Linked DNA regions of Homo sapiens. The protein of the gene in region 3 interacts with the protein of the main gene of each other region in a biochemical or structural test. Each region holds a gene or a part of one and is shown on either strand. Other genes may lie near its edges. The genes, in order: NOTCH2, NOTCH3 and DLL1.

Evidence for each region.
Region 1: the proteins of DLL1 (region 3) and NOTCH2 form a complex in vitro, tested with the Homo sapiens proteins (one study listed by BioGRID).
Region 2: the proteins of DLL1 (region 3) and NOTCH3 form a complex in vitro, tested with the Homo sapiens proteins (one study listed by BioGRID).

What each region holds. Positions count from the first base shown.
Region 1 is NC_000001.11:120,066,651-120,073,938, forward strand, and holds the start of NOTCH2 (neurogenic locus notch homolog protein 2 isoform 1 preproprotein), read right to left. Parts: upstream 3,013-7,288; 5' UTR 2,757-3,012; coding exon 2,684-2,756; intron 1-2,683. UniProt on the Homo sapiens protein: Functions as a receptor for membrane-bound ligands Jagged-1 (JAG1), Jagged-2 (JAG2) and Delta-1 (DLL1) to regulate cell-fate determination.
Region 2 is NC_000019.10:15,158,434-15,163,009, forward strand, and holds the end of NOTCH3 (neurogenic locus notch homolog protein 3 precursor), read right to left. Parts: intron 4,130-4,576; coding exon 4,032-4,129; intron 3,282-4,031; coding exon 2,229-3,281; 3' UTR 605-2,228; downstream 1-604. UniProt on the Homo sapiens protein: Functions as a receptor for membrane-bound ligands Jagged1, Jagged2 and Delta1 to regulate cell-fate determination.
Region 3 is NC_000006.12:170,281,670-170,288,160, forward strand, and holds the end of DLL1 (delta-like protein 1 precursor), read right to left. Parts: intron 4,630-6,491; coding exon 4,569-4,629; intron 4,031-4,568; coding exon 3,900-4,030; intron 3,755-3,899; coding exon 3,585-3,754; intron 3,467-3,584; coding exon 3,250-3,466; intron 2,361-3,249; coding exon 1,562-2,360; intron 1,437-1,561; coding exon 1,319-1,436; intron 1,211-1,318; coding exon 1,205-1,210; 3' UTR 537-1,204; downstream 1-536. UniProt on the Homo sapiens protein: Transmembrane ligand protein of NOTCH1, NOTCH2 and NOTCH3 receptors that binds the extracellular domain (ECD) of Notch receptor in a cis and trans fashion manner.

The DNA.
Region 1 (7,288 bases), on a different chromosome or scaffold from region 3:
CCAGGTGAACCAAAAGTTGCTCCTCTATGTCATAGAAGCCTACAGGAGAGGCAGTAGGGTGGGAATGGAGCAGAGAGATCCCAAGAAGTTATGGGTAAATATTTTTTAAATCTAAACATTCAGAAAAATAAGAGAGACTAGGAATCACTCTCCTCCTCCTCTCCACCACACCAAAAAAAAAGGAATAATAAGAAAGTGAAAGGAAAAATAGTTTTAGGTTAAATTTCATCACCATCTGAAAGAAAATTACTCCGATTTTGTTTAAGCAAGAGAAGAATTCAGCTGAGAAATTATCTAGCAGGCAGCAAAATCAGGGAGTCACTTCCCATTGCAAAGCAAAAGAAAACAAGGAGCAAGAGGATGGTCCTGGATAGCTGTTTAGACAATCAGACATACTGCTAACATCTCCTTGCCTTAGAAACTCCGTGATGTTTAAATTAACAATTGGCCACAAGCCAAACACAGGAACACTCAAAAGTTTAGAAGGGTGTGCTGCAACTGGTACCTTAGCAAAACACAATAATAAATTAAGAGGATTCAAGAAGCCTTCACTGTAGACTCTAAGAAGATTTAAGATTTGTACCGAGAAACGGCTTCTAAATCTCTTCTACTGCATTAGTTTAGCATCTAAAGAACACCTGTCTAAAAATCAAAATATCTAAATCCTATCCTTTGAGTCAACTTGACTAACACTCAACTTGACTACCTAAAAGCTAGCTAATAATCGCAGCACCTCAGCAGAGCAGAGGTGGAGGGCATAGTTTTATGCACTGAGATCCTATAATAAAAGAAGCCCTATGTGTCAGAGTAATCCCATTTCTGATATCATATTATTTAATACTTAATTTTTCAAATCACTTTACAATTATATTTATTATTCCCTACAATTCTCTAAAGCAGGTTATTCCTTTAGTCCTGCTTCATAGGTGAGGAGACTACATATCATGAAGATTAAGTTATTTACCAAAACAAGTTAATGATAGACCAAGGATTATTACCCTCAGACTGTCTCATTGATCATACTCCTCTCTATCCTAAAGCTACACTTAAAGCTTTCACTCAAAGAAAAAGGAAAAGCAAAAACACCATCATATATGCTCTTTATTAAATGCTTCAGAAACAACGGCTCTGCTTCATCACTACAAAGCCTCCTGGTCCACTTCTGAAATTCTTAGTGACCTAGACGTGTACGAAATTTGAACTTTCCAAGAAGTATCTAGTTGGTGCTGAACAACCCAGTACTATTTTCGGGTGATAAATAACCTTGTTCTCTTTTTAAACATCTGCGATTGACATGTCGACTGACTGTTAACAATGAACAAAGACCATATTTTTCTGAAGCTCATCATCTTCCTAACCTTTTCTTTGAAAACAGATGTAGTTCATGTACTAGTTTTTTGGTGAAGGTAAAAATCTTTATTCAGATTAGGCTCAGAAAAAGAAGGGGCTGCTTTCCGTTCAACAAATATGCACAAGACAGCATCCCACTGGGAGCATCAATCTCAGAAGCAGTAAAACACAGCCTCGGCCCTGAAAGGACTTTCTGAACACCTTTGGAGTGTCATCCGTTTAATATACATTATTTTAATTAATCCTATTAGCTGGATAATTTCTTTCCCATTTTATTGGTGAGTTCATATAGCAGAGCTGGATTTGAATCCAGGATTACAGAGCAGGGCTCCAAAGCCCAAGTTATTTCCACTAAAGGGTCTGAAGAAATGTAGAATCTAAAAGTGTGGGTGGGATGGGGAAGATATGATTTGATTCCCTTTCCTTGGTCCAACCGTGTTAGAAACATCCAACCATAAAGAAGCTTTCTAAGGAAGCCCTTTGAATTAACGTATCCACTTTTTCTCACCCGCCCGTGCCCCACCCCCAGCCATGCCAAAGGAGCAGCAAATGCTGCTGCCAGGTTGGAGGAATTGGTGATCGTCACACCACATTCCTGGGTCTGGACACAGCCTGAAACAGCAGCAGAGCTCCGCGCCTCGGAAAGAATAACAGCAGTTGAGATTTTTAAATCATGTGCCTCAGCATGCAGCCACACCAGTTGCCCTACTTCTCCTGCCTCCACCTTTCAAAGACGCGAGCAGCACACACGGCTCCCCCGGACTTTCGGTGGGGTTGGAGTGTCAAAACTCAGGCGCGCCGCAAAACCCCGTCCCCATCCAAACCAAGCCCACACACCCGGCCCATGTGCCGCCCCCTGGCAAAGGCGAGGCTGGCTGCGACGGTGCAGGCCGTTTGGCTTGGCGGCCCTGCCCCCGCTCTCCACGCCAGAATCTGGCATTCCTTCGCTCAGCCCCTCCGAGGCCCGCCGTCGGCTCTCGCTCGACCCCAAGAAACGCGGAACCTGAAGGGCAAAACTGCCCACCTCCCTGCACCCTGGCACTACGAAAAAGGAGTTTCTGAGACTTGCTGCCGGCCTCCCTCCTGCCGAGGAGGCGTGTAAGGGGTCCCGGGCCGCGGGGAGCAGAGGCGGCGGGGAACCCCGGCGGTTGGCGGGGCACCACGGGAGGGGCCCCCGGCGATGTCCAAACTCTTGGGAACCCAGCGAGTGGCCTCGCTCCGCGCCGGCGGCCGAGCCTGGCCTTCCCACACAGAGAAGGACCGAGGGGGAGAAGGGTCGCCCCAGGTGGCAGCCCCGGGCGCCGCGGACAGCGCCCCTCAGCCCGATACTCACCATGCGCGGGGGCCGCGCAGCACAGCCAGAGCGCCAGCAGCGCCCACAGCAGAGCGGGGCGCAGGGCGGGCATCTTCTCGGTCGCCTCCTCCTCCGCCGCCGCCGCCGCCGCCTGGGCAGATCCACATGGGGAGGGGGTCCCGATAGAGGAGCCCCACTCTCTCCTCCCCTCCTCCTGCTTCAAAGGCTCAGGCCCTGGCGCTACGCTCCGAAGCCCAGGCGCAAATGCCTCGACTCCCCGCGCCCCGAGTCCGCCGCTCCTCGGCCGCCGCCTCAGCCGCCGCCCGAAGTTTGGCTGAAACTTTCTCGGGTGTGCAACGAAGCAGCCTCGTGTGTCCTTCCGCCTCAGCCGCCTCCTCCCACCGCAAGCCCCGCCCCACTGTCGCCGCGGCCTCGGCCCCGCCGCCTTGGGCACCCAGGGGTTTCCCGCAGGAAGAAGCGCCGGCCCGAGCTCCGCGCGGAGGGATCTACTACGAGTCACTGGCCCCGTCCGCATCCTTCTCCAGCGGCCCCGGGGGCCGCCGCGCCTTAACTCGATCAGGGCTGCAGCGGCTCGCTGGCTTGACCAGTGCAGAAGGGGCGTGGGGGTGAGGGGGGTGGGGTAGGACTCTGAACTTCAAGCACTGGAGTTTGCCGGGATCGTGAACTTGCAGGGAGAGGCGGTCCTCATCCAGTGAGGTCTGTATCGCCACCTACACCCACACATCCACACACTGCTTTGCTAGCTAGAGGAATGCTCTGGAGTAGGACCAGTGCTGTCAAAGAAGGAAAGTGGGCCAAGGCGCCAAAGTCCATTAAAAAGGAATAGAGCCATCACGGAGTGGTGCTGCCCCATTCATTCATTCATTTGTTCATCCGTGTAGCGAATATTTCTTAAGTGCCTTACTTTGCGTAGCTGTGTGCTTGGCAGTGGGATGATACCAAAGATGCACAAGCAACTTTGAGTACCAAGACTTTGCCGCTGTGGGCTGGGGGATTCAGGGAAGGCTTTCCCAGAGGAGCTGGGATGAAAGCAGGATCTTGAAAGGTCAGTAAAATTTGTATAAGACAAGGAGACCAGCTAAGCTAAGGATATTCGTTGTAACACTGTAATAGCAAAACCTTGAAAACAACATAAATGCCCACCCTTAGAGGAATGGATGAATAATGTATGGTATATTTATAAAATGAAATGCAACACAGTAATTGAAAAGACTATAGCTATTTATGTCAATAGGGATAAATCTTAAAAACTAAATGATAGTGAAAAAACTAATCACAGAGGGAGACAAAGTATACCATTTATGTATATTTTTTTCAAGACAATACTACACATTATCTGTGGATGCATATATATAGATATAGATATTAAGAGACTATAACCAGAATAGTAGTTACTTCCAGGGCAGGAGAGTAGGGGGTGTGATCAAACCTGGGTACAAGTGGGCTTCTAAGAAAAGAGCTAAAAGTAAGAACAGCAACAATAGTTGTATGGACATATCATTCCAGGAAAGAGCCCTCGTGAAAGCAAAGGTACAGTCAAAAGAGTAAGTAAATGAGTTCTGTCTCTGTTAGCAGTGAGAGGAGTCAAGGACGGAAAGGGGGTTGGGACCAAATTATGCAGCCTTGAATGGCAAGCTGAAAGGGTGGGGAGGCAGCTACCTCTTAGGTCACATAAAACTATTGAAAGTTTTTGAACAGAGTTGAGATTGATGGAAAGGAAGATTGCTCTGATAATTCTGTAGAAAATTGATTGTTGGGGGAGCAAGAGGTGAACTGGAGCCCCAGGACCAGTCAAGAGTTGGTGAACAGTCCAGGCACAAATTTAAGAAGACCTGAACTAATAAGGTAGATTTCAGAAGGAATGAATCCGAGACAATGTTAAAGAAACAGAAAAAAAAAATGGAGGTGTGACTAATTGGATGTGGGAGTTTACAATCCTGTTGGGATGGGAAATCCTACCCATAGAACCTCTCCCTGACTCCTATAGGATAAAATTCAAACTTCTAAACATGGTACATACAAGGCCTTTTCGTCATTGGGCCCCATCTCCTGTCCTCCCTGCCCCTGTTGTGAACTTCACACAATAACAGTATTGACTAACTTGAGATTCCCCCAAACATATCTTGCTGTTTCTGTCCCTGTATCTTTTGTTCCTTTGGCTTGGAATGACTCCTGTAGTCCCCTTCCCTCCTCCTCTTAATGAACTTCTAATCATAATTCATCCTTCAGTCCAAAGAAGGCTTTGCCGACACCGCAATAAATTCCTCCCCCTAACAGACAGTCCCTCCACTGTCTTCCACTGCCGCTTCTTTATCTTAACACCGATACTTATTTTTCACACAGGACTCTTTGTATTTCTGTGTTCTCAACTAAGTTTTGAGGTCCTCATGGGCAAAGACCACAGCCTATTAATCCCCAGTGTCTATCACATAATAGATGTTGAACTAGAATGTGAAACAACACTAAGCAAGTACAAGTCAGTATGGGCATAGACCTATGAAGTTCCAAAACTGCATGTTAACAAGCACTTTAGGTAAGCAAGTACCATTAGTGAAAGTAGTCACATTGAAATACTGGAAACCCTTTTCAAAAATAATGTAGTCAAAATATTTTTGGAATTTGTCTTGTGCAAGTATGTTCAGAGAAAGATAACATTATTTTTCAGTTGTTTACCCACAGTGTTACCAGTTCGATCTTCCTCTTTACTCACTAAAGATAATTCATAGTGACTTGGCTGCATACAAATTTTAAAAATCACCTGCAAAGATAAGTTTTGTCACTATTAAAATATATTCAGAAGAATATAAGATAGTTATCCCCAAAGAGCAACTCTAGAAGCGACTGTAGCTATGACAACATTATTAAAATAAATGTGCAGGCCAGGCGTGGCGGCTTATGTCATAATCCCAGCACTTTGGGAAGCTGAGGTGGGCAGATCACCTGAGGTCAGGAGTTTGAGACCAGCCTGGCCAACATGTTGAAAACCCGTCTCTACTAAAAATACCAAAAATTAGCCGGGCATGGTGGCGAGCACCTGTAATCCCAGCTACTCAGGAGACTGAGGCAGTAGAATCACTTGAACCCAGGAGGCAGAGATTGCAGTGAGCCAAGATCGTGCCACTGTACTCCAGCCTGGACAACAAGAGTGAAACTCCGTCTCAAAAAAAAAAAAAAAAAAAAAATAGGTATGCAGTTTCTCAAAGTAACCGTTTTAAAGAAAGCAGCTATTATGTTCACATATAACTTTTGTTGAATATGTTACAATATGAAAACTTACTGCATACATTCTGGTAAGGACAAGAGAAGTAAAGAGTAAATATGAATGGAAGTAAGGGAAAAATATGACTGAAGACATTTTTTAAAGATAAGTTTTAATGATAGAAAAATATGAATAAGGGCTACCAATTGTTTTAGTTTTAATCAAAACTAAAAATATACATCTATGTCTTTACTGATTTAAACTCACATAAAACTGCCTTCCAAAATAAATGCAGAATTGGGCACTTATTTGTTCTCATGTCTGTCCTCTCAGAGCCGATAAGCTGTAAAAAAAACTCTCAAAATAAAACTCTGTTTTATTTTCTGTTTTGCCTCGGTTTCTATCACATAAGTGCTCAATAATATATGTTTTACATAAATGCTGAATGAGGAACATATATATCTATATAAACTGGGGAACAATGCAAGACTGGAAGAATGTCTTGGTGTGTTGGAGAAGTTGAAGAAGAGATTGTGGGATAGCTATGACACATAGATTGAGCTACACCACGAATCTCTCCATGTAACCCAGGAACCCAAGGATATGTGATGAGATGTTTGTGGAAGCAGGAATTAAAAGGAAGATTTCTTTTAATAATGCCTTGCAGTTGCGCAGTGATTTAGACCTTCCAAAAACACTTTTAATTATATTATCTCATTTGATCCTCAAAACAATCGTGGGAAATAGGCACCCCAGTCATTATTATACCCATTTTGCAGATGAAGAAACTGAGATAGAGCTTTAAGTATCTTGCCCAAGGTTAAATAAGTAATTAGTGAGCTGAGACAAACCCCCCACTATTTCTGTCCTCTTACTCAGTCTCACTCCACTGTACCTTTGTGCAACAATGTGAAGCACATCCAAGATGATATTTAGTGTGGGGACCTCTGTGTAGAGGGACACCAGCTTCTTGTCACTTCCATGTTAGCACAGAACAAGCTGACCCACTGTAACTAGGAAACATAAACAAGTGAATAAATTCTTTTAATTTAAAATTTTTTTGAGAGCCTGTTCTCTACAAAGCACATACTAGGCTCTGCGGCAATGCAGAAATAAATAAAACCCAGTCCCTGTTCTTTGGAGATCACAGAGCAGTGAGGCAGGCCAACATACAAATAACATAACTACAACAGAGATAAAGCACAGGGATATGGGAAAGTAGAGAGCACTGGGATTAATTTTGAGTCCACTTTCCTCTCATCCAGTCCCCATCCTGAAAGATATGAACTGTGGTGGCCCACACAGCTGGACTGTAAGCCATGTGACAAGAGTCATTTCTTACCCCTTATTCATGTTTGTAAACTCCACAGTAGTTGGTTCTTTGCCTTGCACAGAGTATGTGCTCAATAAAGACCTACTTTCTG
Region 2 (4,576 bases), on a different chromosome or scaffold from region 3:
GAGGTGGACACCTGTAATCCCAGCTACTTGGGAGACTGAGGCAGGAGAATTGCTTGAACCCGGAGGCGGGGGATGCAGTGAGCCGAGATTGTGCCATTGCACTCCAGCCTGGGTGACAAGAACAAGACTCTATCTTAAAAAAAAAAAAAAAAAAAGGAAGAAAGTAAAAGAAAAATCAATCACAATACTAGGAGTTTCTCTCTTCCCTGGAAGGAGCAATATGGCACCTATTTTGATAACACAGAGAGAAGGCTGGAGCTGTGTGATGTCGGGAAGAGAGGTTCTACTGGGTGCCATGTGGAGCATGTAGATGAAACTGATGCCCAGAGAAAGCTGTAGAGATGAAGAGAAACTGAGCCATTGTTGACCACATTTGAGCCACTAGATCAATTCTCCCCTGAAGTAGGTCCTTTTAATTTATATGAGCTAATAAACCCCTTTCTTGTTTAAGCCAGTAGACTTTTGTGTCATTTGCAACCAGGAGCACTCCAACTGACAGAATCAACGAACATTAAATCCTATCCTCCTTTCCTGAAGACACCAGTGTAAACAGAACCTTGTCTTGGAGCACGACTGGTTGCGAGTAACAGAAACCCACCGAAGCTGGCACAAGTAAAGAAGTATTTATTACATGGGTCCAAGGTTATCTCCAAAACCCATAGGAGCATGAAGTAAAAGTGAAATTCATGCAGAACCATGATCAGATACTTAGAAAGCAATTAATAAATACCTGTTGATCTCAATGGAATGAACACTCAATTAACTGGAATTGATAACTGCACTGGGAGCCGAGATAACCCCCCCAGCCCTCAAGGAGCCATTTGAGCTCTCATTTCTGATTCTCCCTGAATATTAGCTTCATTCTTCTGCCCTGTTTGCTTGTCTCTTTGCCCACCACCTCGAATTGGCCACTGATATTTCTAAATCTGATTGTGACCTTAAGAGCTCCACCAACTGACAACTTTCTTAGCCTCTCCATTAAAGAAAGTTCTCGAGCAAAAGAATCTGATTGGCTCAGCTTAAGTCAGGTGACAACCACTAATCCAATCGGTAGTCATCTGCCAAAAGAGGAAGCATAAGTAGACTGGCAAGTCAAATGTATTTACCCCAAGATGGGAGCTCAAGTTAGCCCTGGGTGGGGGAGATAGAAGTCCCACTGCCACCACTCCCCACCTTACCTAGACACAGACCAACAACACTGAGTGTTAACTATTCCTTTATTAGGTGGTGAGGGGAGTGGGGGGCTGTACAATGCAGGGCTTGGGAATTCAGCTACACAGGGATTTTGACCAGAAGCCATATTACAAAAATAGCCTAAAAATACCTCTATTCTGCCATGAGGCTGGGCCAGAGGATTACCAGGAAGAGAAAGTACCACTCAGGCAGCTCCTCTTCTTGTAGTCCCACATTTACAGGGACACAAAGGAATGCATACATCTGCCCTGGCTCCCATTTCCCACCAGCAGCCCCCTAGTTCCCAAAGGGAGATGGCCAAGGGTGGGGCTGGGGCAGAGGGAGTTGGCAGTGGGCCCTTCCCCAGCAAGGCTATGGAACATGTCCCATCTGGAATGCAGTGAAGTGAGGGAGGTGGGGTGGGGAGGAGGCTCCCAACACTCCCCCGACCCCTGGCCCCAGTGGGTGCGCCCAAGGGTGCCTACTTGGTACATACCTGGGTCGTGTACTCGGTACACGGGATCCCAGTCATGCCTGTGTACTAGGTACACAGAATCCAGCTTGGCCGAATGGGCCCACAGACTCAGCCCCACGGGGGCACTGGGGGGTTCACAGGGGGAGGGAGCATCTCCATATATATATTTTGTAAAAAATAATAATAATAAGTTTGTTTAAATGAATTTGTTTCTATACAAAATGTAAAAAAAAAAAGAAAAATAAAAATAATAATAATTCATTCATGTCAGAGTGTAAGGAAATGAGAGGCCAGAAGGAGAGAGAAAGGAATGAGGGAAGAGAGAAGTGGGGAAGAAGGAGGTCCCAGACTCTTCACAAGACTGAGAGGGTGGGTGGTAGCCCCCACCCATTATAAATAAAGGAAGACTGAAGCCCTGGGCTGATGACCTATCTCGGTCACGCTGCAAGGCAAGGATGCAGGAGGGTTGGTGGAAAGAGAAGAGGATGAAAAAGACTAAAAGGAAGGAAGAGACAGAGAAAGAAAGGAGGCAGGACGGGGGTCTCTTTAGGCCCCCAAGATCTAAGAACTGACGAGCGTCTCAGGCCAACACTTGCCTCTTGGGGGTAACTTCCGGCTGGGGCCCCAGCTGGGTCTGGGCCTGAGCAAGGGAGCTGGGAACAGACAAGGGAAGTGGCTGGGCAGGCAGTGCCCCAGTGGTGGTGGCCATGGCCCCAGTGGCAGTGGCTGGGCTAGGCGTGGATTCGGACCAGTCTGAGAGGGAGGGAGGTGAGGGGCTGGCCCAGTGCTCAGGGGATTCGGGGGATGGGGTCAGGTAAGGGTGCTCACTGGGAACCCGCAGGAAGCGGGCCTTTGGGGGGCTGCTGTGTGCCCCAGCCGCCGGGTACTCCTCGCCATGTCCTGGGACTGCCAGGTAAGGCGGGGGCCGCTCCTGCGGGGAGACGGGGGTCCCTGGGTTGAGCAGCTGGGGTCCCGGCGCCAGTGGCAGCAGGAACGAGGGGCCTGGAGGGGCAGGTGGGGGCAGCCGGGCCCAATCGAGGGGCACAGCCACAGGGTTCAGCAGGCCCAGGCTGAGTACACATCCTCCAGGGGGCTGGCGCCCTAGACCCGCCCGGCCTGGGCCACCAAGCTGTGCCAGAGACACTGCAGTGGCAGTGGCAGCTGCATAGGGCCCCTCAAGGGGGAAGCCACCAGGGGAAGCAGGGGGCCCACCGAAAGGCCGCGGGGAGTCCAGCGAGTCCACGGGCGACAGCGTGACCGAGCTGTCAGCCAGGGGGCCCGGGCAGGCCAGCGTCAGCTTCTTGCCCCGCCCCCGGGGCCCCTGCGGCCCCAGCCCCGCCTTCCCGGGGGGCCTCCTGCTCTTCTTGGACCCCGACTGTGCCGCTTTGAGGCCAGGGAGGAAGGCCCCTGGAGGACAGAGCAGAGGCCCCAGGCCGTGGGGACCGGGGGGGCTGCGGGGCCCACTGGGTTGATCCAGCAAGCGCACGATGTCCTGGTGCAGTCTCTCCTGGGCTACGTCCCGCGGCAGCCTGTCCAGGTGGTCGGTGATCTCACGGTTGGCAAAGTGGTCCAACAGCAGCTTGGCAGCCTCATAGCTGCCCTCGCGGGCGGCCAGGAATAGGGGGGTCTCCTCCTGGGGGGCCAGAACCCACAGAGGTCAGCGAAACCCCAGCTAACAGTAGCAAAGTCTTCCAGCCTCTTGGGGGAGCCCGAGAGCTATGAGTTTGTACACTGGAGCTTGACAGACCTGGGTTAAATCCCGGCTGTGCTGGGGGAGCCTGGACAAGTTCTTTCCTCTAAACCACATTCATCCATCACCTACTAAGTGCCAGAGGTCAAGGCCAGGACTAGGGTGAGTTAAGCGAGGTACTCACCTTAGGCATAACTTTTTTTTTCTTGTCTTTTTTTTTTTTTTTTTTTGACAGAGTCTCACTGTGTCGCCCAGGCTGGAGTGCAGTGGCGCCATTTCAGTTCACTGCAACCTCAGCCTTCCGGGTTCAAGCGATTCTCCTGCCTCAGCCTCCCGAGCAGCTGGGACTACAGGTGTGCACCACTACGCCCAGCTAATTTTTGTATTTTTAATAGAGACAGGGTTTTACTACGTTGGCCAGGCTGGTCTCAAACTCCTGAACTCAAGTAATCCACCCATCTCGACCTCCCAAAGTGCTGGGATTATAGGCATGAACCACCACACCCAGCCATTAGGCACAAAATTTAAGGGGCCCCCAAAAACTTTAGTCACCAAAGTAAATTATATTTTAATCCAATGTTTGGGGTTTTATTTTGTTTTGTTTTTTGAGAGAGTCTCACTCTGTTGCCCAGGCTGGATTGCAATGGCACTGTGCCACTGCTGACACCCAGTGGACCAAGGGCTGGGGCTCACCTTGCTATCCTGCATGTCCTTATTGGCTCCATTTTTGAGCAGGGCCAAAGTGGCTTCCACGTTGTTCACAGCCGCAGCCCAGTGTAAGGCTGATTTCCCTGGAGGATGAAGGGGAGAGAGGTCAGGACCAGGCACCTGTCCTGGGGCCCCCATGTCAGGGAGGCAGAAATTGTCTAGAATGTGGCCTAGGGGTAGAGGAGGCAGGCCTGCCGTGAATATCCAAGTACTTGTGTCTGGATCCATGTGTGTGCAAATCTGCAAAATGACTCTGTGCAATGGGGAAGCACTTTGTGTCTGTGTGTGTGTGTTTGTGTGTGTGTGTGTGTGTGCGTGCATGTGCATGACTGTTTATACACAGGGGGTGCTGTGTGGACCTCCTTCAGTTGAACCTAGGGTTGTGACATCCAATACAGTAGTCAGTCACATGTGGTTTTTATTTATCCATTTATTTATTTTTGAGGTAGTGTCTTGTTCTGTCACCCAGGCTGGAGTCCATTGGCACAATCTCAGTTCACTGCAACCTCTACCTGCTGGGCTCAGGCGAT
Region 3 (6,491 bases):
AATGAGGGGTCAGCCCACAGGGAGCCCGTGCGGTCCTGCTGAGCCAGCAGGCGGGACGCGCTTAGAGACGGGGCTGCCCACCGACGGGAAGCGGAGGAGCAGCTTCCGTGACTCCCACGCCCCGTCTGGGGCCATGTTGGCGTCAAACGGCGACAAAATCATGACAGCTGTGACCCACTGGGTACAAAATAACTCACAAGTCTACACTGACATGAATGAATGAATGAATGAATGAATGAATGAATGAATGAGGAACGCTCATTCTTTCTGCGGAAAGAACTAATAAATGCATGGGGGGATGGAATTAGAAAATCGCGGCTGCTTCATGCGCGTGCCTGCTCTTACCAAGTCACCTCATGATGGCCAGCAAGCAGCTTCCTGAGGGAGGAGAGGAACGGGCTGCTTCTCATGGATCCAGGGAAACCAAAGCCTTGAAAAGAGAAACACCAAGGCCACCTCTGCCCTCAGCCTCGCGGGCCGCAGGTGAGTGAGCACACCTCCGCTCTAAGGCAAAGCCAAGTAACTACGCCTTCTGGTTGTCATTCATAAAATTTATTTTGGAAAAATATTTTAAAAAGGAATTTCTTCATTAACAAAACAGTAAAAAACTCAAATAACATTTGCACAATATTCCATAAATACATTTATATACAAAAAAATATAGTCACATAGACCCGAAGTGCCTTTGTACATATTTACCAAAATTTAAATTATAAAAAACGAACATCACAAAATACTCAAGCTTTACAGATATCATGAAAAATATTTTTACAAATCCAAAAAATAACACACATCTTTTCCATCTAGAAAAAGCACATCTTCGTATCAAAAAGGACAATAAAGGCAGTGTTTGTGTTTCTAATTCAAGAAAAGACTGGCTCATAAGAATCCAAAATATACACTCAGGCAGTGCATGCTTCTTATGCGTAATTCAGTTCACCCATTTAAATATATATTCTCTTAAGAGCAACTGTCCATAGTGCAACGGCGACGTCACGGAAGGCAGTGCCGCAGGCGGCCGGGCCGCGACAGGCTGTCGGCAGGCGTCGAGGACCTCAGGAGGAGAACCTGCTCGGTCTGAACTCGGTTTCTCAGCAGCAGTCCACGAGGCCTCCCTCCTCTTCAGCAGCATTCGTTGGGGCATATATCCTTGGAATTTTACTTATTTTAAGAGAAACGGGAGTCTTGCCATCTCACTTCCATTTTACACCTGGGGGGCCACAAGACAAATGGGAAGTTAGCCTGAGACCGATTCCCGTGCTCCAGCTTCAGGTGCTCCCATGCCGAGGAGGAGGGAGCGGCTGCTGCCTGCACTGACCTCAGTTGCTATGACGCACTCATCCTTCTCCTCGGATATGACGTACACCGACTGGTACTTGGTGTCTTTTGAAGTTGAACAGCCCGAGTCCGGCCTTTTTCTTTCAGATGCTTCTCCACTAAAAGGAAAATAGAGAAAATCCACAATGAATGCATGAGAACATTTGGGAAGAGAAACGGAGCAGTGGTTCCAGGAAGACACCCCCCAGGTACCCCCTCCTGATGCCCGGCCCGCAGCACGCACCCCCTGAGTGTGGTCGGGGTCCCCTTCTCCTCCCCTGAGGAGCCCTGGGGCTGGCACTTGGTGTCACGCTTGCTGTGCGCGTCCCTGACGGCGGTGTCGTCACCCTTGAGGTCCTGCACGAGGTTATAGTCCACCGCTGGGTAGCGGGCCTTGAAGCCATTCTTGTCGGCGCTGTGGTCCCCGTGGAAGTCCGCCTTCTTGTTGGTGTTCTTGATCTGCGTGGCCCCGATGATGCTGACTGAGATGTCCTTCTCACGCTGGCAGTTGGCCAGGTTGTTCATGGTCTCCGTCTCCCCCCGGCAGGGGTCGGCTGGGGGCCGGTGCTTCTGCAGCCTCAGCCGGACGCAGACCACCACAGCGGCACAGCCCAGCAGCAGCATGAGGACAAGGATGACCCCGGCGCACACGGCCACCCAGGGGAATGGCCCGCCCTGGCCCTCTAGCTTCTCAGTGAGGTCCACCACCGCTGGGCCCGGGGGCAGCTCGGGGAGCAGGAACTGGCAGTTGGGACCCCCGTAGCCTCGGGCACACTCGCACACATAGCGGTGGCCCCTCTCGTGGCAGGTGGCCCCATTGTGGCAGGGTGCGTGCTCGCACCTGCTGACGGGGGCACTGCAGTTCCTGCCCGTGTAGCCAGGCGGGCAGGTGCAGGAGAAGTCGTTCACGCCATCCCGGCAGGTGCCCCCGTTGGCGCACGGGGAGGAGGCGCAGTCGTCCACGTTGTCGTCACAGTGCCTCCCCGAGAAGCCGGCCTGGCAGCGGCACAGGTAGGCATCACCGAGGTCCACACACTTGGCACCTGGAACACAGGGACATGAACATCACGTGTCTCCTCGTAGGTTTGTTCACCAAAAAGTCACTCTGAAGCATCTATCTGTCTGACACTGTAGAAACCAGACAAACCAAAGACAGTCTGTGGCCTGAATGAGTCCACAGCGCAAGGTGACATGGTTTAGGACCTCAAATACGAGAGGTGTCCAGGTCTAGCTCTACAAGTCAGAAACCACACGGCCAGCATCTGGACAGGCGCTGTGCAGAACACTCTGGTGGCTGCATTAGTCGCCACAACAGCCGGGCAAGAGCATGTGCCACTCGACCCAGGTTTCAGATGGGGAAACTGAGGCTTAACGAGGGTGTCCTTGCCCACAGTTACACAGCAAGTGAGAGGAGCAGGCACTGACAACAGGGGAGGGAGGGAGGGGAAGGATGACCATTCCGGAATGCTCCGGCACATCTGGGGCCCAGCTCTCCTTGCTGTGTGTCTCCTTTGGGCAGCCAGCCCCTCGCTGCTAGCAGGAGGCTCTCTGTCCTCACTCAGGGACACCCCCAACTACTGTGCTGGGTGGCCACACAGCTGGGCCATCCTCCCAAGCTGGAGTGGCCGGCACCTGTGGGCATCACTTACTGAACCTCAGGCGGCCGCAGGTGCCCGAAGCACCTTGTGGCCCTGAGCAAGTCATTCACTGCTTGGTCTAGGTTTCCACAGAGAACTTCATAACAAATGCCCTGGCCTCTCTCATTCCCCAGGCCTTTCCAGACTCAAAGATAGAGTTTCCATCGAGAATTCCTGGCGGTCTGGATAAAAGTGATTCATAAACTCGAGGTCACTCACAAATGCTTGTTTTTAATGCCACCTCAGTATTGACCGCTCGCCCGAGTCTCTGAGCAATCACCAGCTGCCCCCTTACCATTAGAACAGGGTGAAGAGCTGCAGTAGTCAATTTTCTTCTCACAGTTGAAGCCGGAGTAGCCCACGGGGCAGCGGCAGCTGTACCCTCCATCGGGGCTGTCTGAGCACCGACCCCCGTTAAAGCAAGGGCCGTCCGCACAGGTCATGGCACTCAATTCACAGATTTTGCCGTAGAAGCCGGGTGGGCAGGTACAGGAGTAGCTGTTCTCGAGATCCTACACGATGGAGAGGTCAGAAAAGGCTTTCCAAAGTTGCTCCAAGGAGCCCACACACTCCATTCAACACCAGGGCACCCCAGCTTCCGGGTGAGATGCCATGGAGCCTCCGACTCACCGTGCAGCTCCCTCCGTTCTTACAAGGGCTGGGGTCACACTCGTCAATCCCCAGCTCGCAGGTGGCACCTGTGTACCCAGGCCGGCAAGAGCAAGTGTAGCTCCCCTGGCCCGTGTTGGTGCAGGTGGCTCCATTCTTGCAGGGCTTATGGTGTGTGCAGTAGTTCAGGTCTGTGAAGGGTGGGGACAGGAAAAGTAGGAGATAGGAAGCTCGACATCAAATGCAGGAAGACTTTATTTTTCCAGTGATCAAACAGCCAGGGAAGTCCAGGGCTGCTCTGGAGGGAGCAGGCTGCCTCAGGGAGAGAAGGCTTACCCTGGTTGCAGAAAAGGCCCCCCCAGCCTTCCTGGCAGTTGCACTGCCAGGGCTGCTGGCAGGTGCCATGGAGACAGCCTGGATAGCGGATACACTCGTCACAGTACCGGCCCTGCCAGCCCACTCTGCACCTTGGAGAAAAGCAGAAGACTCAGATGGACGTTGACTGTTGCTGGCTTTGCAGTGGACATTCTCACCCTAGAAACCATCTTCCCGCAGCACCAGTGAGCCTCTGGTTCTCCAGATTAGCAGAACACTGGGTCACCTTGGGAGCTGCAGCCTGGGCCTGGGCCCCACCAGAGGTTCTGGCTTCTTGGGTGTTAGGGCAGCACCAGTGTCAGCATCTCAAAAATCACTCCCTGAGTGATTCTAGGATGAGGCAACATTTGAGAACCATTGAACTATACTATCATTTCCTGTGCCAACTCTTTTTAAACTACTATCTGTAAATTCTCATAGCCGTTAAGGGGCTTAGACGAATGACAACTCCATGACCTTACATGCTGCCAAACATTGATTAAGTAGAAACATGAGAAAACGGCCCCCTGTTCAATCAATCTTACTGGAGTTTTTCGAATGATCACCTAGGGCTGTTTTTACAAATACACCAGCTGTGAAAAGATAACAAGAAAAGGCAACAAAACAAAACACCACCTTGTGCAGACTTACTTGCATTCCCCTGGTTTGTCACAAAATCCATGCTGCTCATCACATCCAGGCAGGCAGATCGCTACAAGCAAAGGAAAAACAGGGTCAAGCCCCACGCCAAGTACGTCCCAACAGGGCTGCCGCCCTTGGGGCCAGGACACAACTCGCCGGCTTCAGTCAGCAAATCCCAGCTGAGTTAATCTTCCCAGGTTGTGGAGGACTGACCCCCCTGCCTAGTAGCCTGGGACTTGACTCAGCCCTGGGGATGAGCATTCTTCTTAACACAGGGGCTCAAGGACAAAAGGGCTCTCGGAAGCCCCCACCCCCACCCTATCCCCTTTTCTTCTAAGAGAGGGTCAGAAGTCTTCCCCCTCCTCCTCCCCCACTTCCCAATTCTGTGCACAAAGCTCCACCTCTTAATATCCCAGAAAGTGTGTGTGCAGATAAGAGTGGACAGCTGGTATGCAGGGTGCCAGGGCAGGACAGCTGCTCCATTGTCTGTCCTCCACGGCAGCTGCCCCAGCGCAACAATGCCGGCCTCCCCCGCGCCCCCGGCCCCACCTCCTCACACACACCCCTCGCGTGTACACACACACACACACACACACACGCACACGCACCCCTTCCGCCAATGGGAGCCGGCGGGTGTCCCTGCGCCTATCCCCGGAGAGATCTAATCTATGGCACGCGCGAGCTGGGGGCGGGGAGAGACTTCAGTGTTTGAAGAAAAAAGTTTAAGTTTCTGGCTACCCTGTGGTGAAGAGAGGCAGGGAGGAAGGGTGGGAGGCAGCAGACTGGCCAGAGGCTCCCGCAGGGCAGGGAGTAGACAGTGGGCTTGAGGCTTGGAGCTGGCTCTTGCTGCCTGGTTATGAAACTCATTAACAAGCAGCTCCACAAGTTGTTTTTTGTTTTTTTGTTTTTCCCCAGAACCAGTTCAGGCCAAGGCAAAGCTTAGAAGGAGCTCAGTAAGTTCCGGAGGGAATTTGGGAAGCTAAGGAGCAAGGACATCAAGGCACTCAGTGAATGGGAAGACCCACCCTCAACCCCAGGCACTACCCAGCTCCTGCCAGAGGTTCTGGGCCTCCCAGAGCCCCTCTCCAAGGTTGTCCAGTTCCAAGGAAGGAGAATGACAGTTCCCTGGAGTTTCTGGGCAGCTCCAGGACCTACCCAATCCCCAGCTGTAGAGAAATCCGGTACCAATGGGCTGGGACGGCCAGGCGTGCAGGCGAGGCCTCAGTCAGCTGGAGAGAGGGCTCCTGAGGTCCCCATGAGCCAGAACCAGGAGCCAGCACGGCCCCAACCCTGCCCTAGTCACCTGCCTGCCATGACATTGACACATCAATACCTAATAAGAGGCAGGTAGAGCCTCTGTCACTATTGGGAAGACATTGCTTCTCCAGACAAGGTGCTGCCTGAGCATTCAAGCCAGACGGGGCTGTGCACCCCTCGCCCACACAGGCCTTGGAGACCTGGCCTCAGCAGCCCACAGGAGTGAAAGCCTGCTCTCTGGCCAGCATAGACAGTGCGTGTCACAGGGAGTATCCGGAAAGGCGTTTGCTCCAGAGAGGTCAAGCACACCAGCTCCAGAGAGAAAATGGAACGTTTCCCAGTGTGATGCTGTTCCAGCACTGGGAACTCGGGTTGAAATGGTGCCCCTGACACACAAGCTCTCTCTGTGTTCCTCCCTTCCTTCCTCCTCTCCCTCTCTAATACACACACCCTGGGGGTAGCACTGGCTTTACTTCCTGACCCCTGGCCCTGTCTCTAAAATCCTCCCTGATTAAGAAAGGCAGTTCCGATAGTGGATAAACACAGCCTGGGATGTTAAAATGTCTGCGTTGACCCCAACCCCCCCACTGACGAGCTGTGACTTATAGCAATCCACTTCTGTCCTCTGGGCCTCAGTTTCCCCACCAGAACATCTCTACAGTCCCAAGCCCCCCG